Regions from separate parts of the Homo sapiens genome. Here region 1 is linked to region 2. A link means that fine-mapping ties the variant in region 2 to the expression of a gene that starts in the linked region. Tissue or cell type: whole blood. Region 2 holds a variant in brackets; the other region holds the start of a gene. All regions are shown on one strand. Distances are between the middles of the regions.

What was found. PIP is the estimated chance that this variant, and not a neighbour inherited with it, causes the effect.
Region 1: it holds the start of DECR1, and the variant in region 2 is fine-mapped to the expression of DECR1 in whole blood (TOPMed, PIP above 0.99).

What each region holds. Positions count from the first base shown.
Region 1 is chr8:90,000,039-90,002,699 of GRCh38, forward strand. It overlaps DECR1 (2,4-dienoyl-CoA reductase 1), which reads left to right and starts at 1,439. Exons shown (of 10, transcript NM_001359.2): 1 at 1,439-1,523. The coding sequence starts at 1,455. RefSeq lists enhancers at 783-1,077, 1,926-2,065 and a silencer at 1,356-1,455.
Region 2 is chr8:90,089,427-90,092,278 of GRCh38, forward strand. No RefSeq gene overlaps it. Among named protein-coding and RNA genes, the nearest start is that of CALB1, 8.0 kb to the left of the region's middle. The variant G/A (reference allele first, on the strand shown) is at 1,330.

The sequences.
Region 1 (2,661 bases), 89 kb before region 2:
TCCTAAGCTGGTCTAAAAGTTATTTAAGAGGGCAAGTGTTCTGGGCTGAATTGTGTACTTCCCTCTTCTCCCAGCCAAATATATACATTGAACTCTTAACCCCCAGTATGTCAGAATGTGGCTATATTTGGAGATAGAGTCTTTAGGGAGGTAATTCCAGTTAAATTAGGTCATTGAGGGTGGGCCTTAATCCAACACGACTGGTGTCCTCATAAGAAGAGGCAATTTAGATATGGAAAGGTACACAGGAGGATCATGTAAAGACACAGGGAGAAGATGGTCCCACAGTGGCTCCACAAGAAACCAACTCTGCTGACTTGTGGCCTCCAGAATTGTGAGAAAACAAATTTCCATTTAAGCCACCCAATCTGTGGTAGTTTTGTTCCTGGACCAAACTGAGGGTCAGGCTGCTATTTCTTGCTGCCAATAATGAGATGTCGATGAACTGGGGATGAAGAAAGTTTTTATTTCTGTAACCAGTTACAGGCAGAAGGCCTGGAAATTATCACCAGACCAACTCAAAATTACAAAGTTTTTCAGAGTTTATATACCTTATAAGCTATATGTCTACATGTAAGTGTACATTCCTCTGAAGATATAAATGTTTCTTTATCAGCATTTGGAACATGCCAGGCAAATAGTAAACACTCAATATCATCTACCATCAGCCTCAGCCTGGGGCCTCACACCCATCTTCTTTTATCTAAAATTCTGAATTAGCTATGAATATTCTCATTTTACGAATGAGGAAAGAAATGTGATCTGAGCTAATGCCTTGTGTCAACAGGTATATTACACTAAGATGGAGAATGATATACTGAATCTGTGTTTGCCTTTAACGTGTGTTTAACTTCGAGAAAAAAGCCAAGGCTGGGCGGTCGCAGTCACGCTGCATCCGGCGACAGGGGGCGGTGTGTCCTGCGAAAAGTCAAAACGCCGGAAGCTGCCCTTAGTGTTTTTCAGCCTCTTGGTCTTAGGGAAAGTGAGGCCGTGTTTTACATCCAACATATTATTATTCTGATAATATGTGACTTGGCGCCACGCGCACTCTGCACTTAAACACGCACTTAAGGGATAAACACATACGACTGAAAAAGAGTTTCGCCCTTGATAGGCAGTGTATGGGGTGCGCAGCTGCAATCTGCAAACCCTTGCAGGGCGCGGGGTTTCGTACACCCGCTCAAGGACGCAAAGAACCTCCATTCTCTGCCATACAAAGCACTCCTGGCCCAGAGAGCAGGAAAGAGCATCAGCTAGGCCCAGCTAGGCGGCGCCCTCGGCCGGACTCTGAAGGTCAGGGCCGCTGGGCGTCCACGCCGCCTGGGTCCCAGTCCCCGTCCCATCCCCCGGCGGCCTAGGCAGCGTTTCCAGCCCCGAGAACTTTGTTCTTTTTGTCCCGCCCCCTGCGCCCAACCGCCTGCGCCGCCTTCCGGCCCGAGTTCTGGAGACTCAACATGAAGCTACCGGCCAGGGTTTTCTTTACTCTGGGGTCCCGGCTGCCCTGTGGCCTCGCTCCTCGGAGGGTAAGGCGGCCGGGGGCGCGGGGAGCGAGGACAGGGCGTCTCGACGCGCAAAGAGAGAGGACAGGGCGTCACGGGGGCTCGGGGAGCGAGGACAAGGCATCCTGGGGCGCAAAGAGAGAGGACAGGGCGTCCCGGGGGTTCGGGGAGCGAGGACAGGGCATCCCGAGGCGCAGAGAGAGAGAGGACAGGGCGTCCCGGGGCCTCGGGGAGCGAGGACAGGGTGTCCCGGGGCTCAAAGAGAGAGGACAGGGCGTTCTGGAGCGCTAAGAGAGCACAGAGCAACCCGGGGAGCGAGAGAGAGGACAGGACGTCTCGGGGCGCAAGAGAAAGGGCAGGAAGTCTTGGGGCACAAAGAGAGGACCCGGCGTCCCTGGGGCTCAGGGAGCTAGGACAGGGCGTTTTGGGGCGCAGAGAGAGAGGACCACCAGGTCCCGGAGCGAAGGGCAACGCCGGGAGTGAGCACCGGGGCCCGGGTCGTATTCCACTGTCAGATGAAGCCCTGATGTGTGTAGGGGAATAGGGAAGAGACGTGATTTTCGAAGTTTTCACAGTTCTGCAAGTTTCCAACTTGTGTGTAAATAGGTAGAAAGAGGTAGGGAAGGATACGGCGCCCGTCCACCCCTTAAGGAGTGAGAGGGGATCAGGCCGAGCGAGCACTGACCTTTGACGTCCTTTGTTGTGAGGAAAGTCCATCTATGTGTTAGTTATGGAATTAAACACTAATACAAACAAATTATCATAAAAATGAAACAAAAACAAAACCCCAGCTGTTTATAGACTCCCCTTCCCAGATGTATAGCTGGGAGAGGTCCGTCTCACACTGGCTTCCCCCTCTCTCTGGCCCACACTCCTGTCACCATCTCCATTGCACCCATAGTGGAAATAGCTAGGAAGTGAAAACAGCTAGGAAGAAGAAAGAGAAACAAAAACAAAAAGAAGCAATAATATCCAAGACAAGCCCTCCCCACATCTAAATTACAAAATTGTTATAAGTAAACTAAAAAGCACATTTTCTTTAGCCAGGTAGAAAAATTAATATGTCAACTGTGAAAAAACTTCTTTTGATTTGATAGAATAGACAGCCATGGTGTTGTTTTTCAAAAAATATGGGCAGCAGTAGTTCCAAATAGGAATACAA
Region 2 (2,852 bases):
GTTTCTATAAATTTTACTTTTCTGGACATTCTATATAAATGGAATCATCCATTGTGCAGTCTTTTGCATTTAGCTTCTAATGTTGTTAAGGTTTATCCACATTGTAACATGTATCAACATTTCCTTACTTTAAAAAAAAAATTTCCATAAGTTATTGGGGTACAGGTGGTAGTTGGTTACATGAGTAAGTTCTTTAGTGGTGATTCGTGAATTTTTGGTGCATCCATCACCCGAGCAGTAGACACTGCACCATATTTGTAGTTTTCTATCCCTCACCGCCCCACCTCACTCTTCCCCCTAAGTCCCTAAAGTCCATTGTATCATTCTTATGTCTTTACGTCCTCATAGCTTAGCTCCCACATATCAGTGAGAACATATGATGTTTGGTTTTCCATTCTGAGTTACTTCACTTAGAATAATAGTCTCCAATCTCATCCAAGTCACTGCAAATGCTGTTAATACATTCCTTTTTATGCCTGTGCACTATTCTATTGTATATCCCTTACATTTTTATTACTATTTATGTGCTCTATCTATACAATAGTATTCCATTTTATAGATACAGAATATTTTGTCTATTCATTTACCAGTTAGTAGACATTTGGATTGCTTCCTGTTATGCATTATTATAAATAATGCAGCTATGAACATTCACATACAAAACTGTGGGCAAATGTTCTAATTTATCCCGGGTAGGTTATCAGAAATAGAATTGTTAAACCATAAGATACATTTAGATTTAACTTTCAAAAAATTTTTCAAACTTTTTGCCAAAGTGGCTTTATGATTTATAATCCTTTCATGCACGTCCATGTGAAGAGACCACCAAACAGGCTTTGTGTGAGCAACATGGCTGTTTATTTCACCTGGGTGCAGGTGGGCTGAGTCCAAAAAGAGAGTCAGCGAAGGGAGATAGGGGTGGGGCCGTTTTATAGGATTTGGAAAGGAAATGGAAAATTACAGTCAAAGGGGGTTGTTCTCTGGTGGGCAGGGGCGGGGGTCACAAGGTGCTCAGTGGGGGAGACTCTGAGCCAGGACAAGGAAATTCACAGGGTTAATCACTCAGTTAAGGTGGGGCAGGAACAAATCACAATGGTGGAATGTCATCAGTTAAGGCGGGGCAGGGCCTTTTCACTTCTTTTGTGATTCTCCAGTTACTTCAGGCCATCTGGGTGTATACGTGCAAGTCACAGGGGATGTGATGGCTTGGCTTGGGCTCAGAGGCCTGACATTCCTGCCTTCTTATATTAATAAGAAAAATTAAACAAAATAGTGTTGAAGTGTTGGGGCGGCGAAAATTTTTGGGGGTGGTATGGAGAGAGAATGGGC[G/A]ATTTTTCTCAGGGCTGCTTCAAGCGGGATTAGGGGCAGTGTGGGAACATAGAGTGGGAGAGATTAAGCTGAAGGAAGATCTTGTGGTAAGGGGTGATATTGTGGGGTTGTTAGAAGGAACATTTGTCGTATAGAATGATTGGTGATGGCCTGGATACGGTTTTGTATGAATTAAAAAACTAAATGGAATAAGAGAAGGAGAAAAACAGGTATAAAAGGTCTAAGAATTGGGAGGACCTAGGACATCTGATTAGAGAGTGCCTAAGGAGATTCAGCATAGTCCTGCCAGCAAAGATTATTTATTTACTTCAAGAGTTTAGAGTGGCAGTTTGGGGATAGCACCAGGAGATATCAGCTGTGATGGCTTGGAGAAACAGTGTAAACCGGCAGTGTAAACAAGAGCAGGGCATGTAGTTCAGAATGGTGAATAGGAGTATGACTAGACAAAAGATAGTAGGGATGACAAGTTTTTTTGGGGCACAGTCTAAGTTGGTCTGGTGTCAAATGAGACTGGGGCCTAATAAAAAGGAGCGTCTGTCTATACAGGAGCTTAAATGGGCTGTACCTTGTAGCATTCTGAGGACAGGCCTGAATTCTGGGAAGTGAAAGTGATAAAAGTATTGTCCAGTCCTTTTTAAGTTGGTGGCTGAGCTTGGTGAGGTGTGTTTTTAAAAGACCTTTAGTCCGTTCTACTTTTCTTGAAGACGGAGGACCGTAAAGGATATAAAGGTTTCACTGAATACTAAGAGCTTGAAAAACTGCTTGGCTGATTTGACTAATAAAGGCTGGTCTGTTATCAGACTGTATAGAGGTAGGAAGGCTAAACTGAGGAATTATGTCTGACAGAAGGGAAGAAATGACTGTGGTGACCTTCTCAGACCCTGTAGGAAAGGCCTTTACTTATTCAGTGAAAGTGTCTATTTAGACTAAGAGGTATTTTAGTTTCCTGACTCAGGACATGTTGAGTAAAGCTAATTTGCCAGTCCTGGGTGGGGGCAAATCCTCGAGCTTGATGTGTAGGGAAGGGAGGGGGCCTGAATAATGCCTGAGGAGTAGTAGAATAGCAGATGGAACACTGAGAAGTTACTTCCTTGAGGATAGATTTCCACGATGGAAAGGAAATGAGAGGTTCTGAGAGGCGGGCTAGTGGCTTGTACTATAGCATAGCCTGCCTTTGCTGGTGTGTGGCGATTAGGCCTGGTGGAACTGCCATCAATAAATCAAGCATGATCAGGGTGAGGAACAAGAAAGAAGGAAATATGGGGAAATGGGGTGAATATCAGGTGGATCAGAGAGATAGTCATGGGGGTCAGGTGTGGCATCAGGAATAATGTGGGAGGCCAGATTGAAGTCCGGGGCAGGAACAATGGTAATTGTGGGACTTAAAGAGTGAGTACAGCTGAAGGAGCCGGGGAGCAGAAAGTATATGCGTCAGGTATGAGGAAGAAAATAGATTTTGGAAGTTATGAGAAATGTAGAGAGTGAGTTGAACATAGTTTGTGATTTTTAGGGCCTCTAACTGT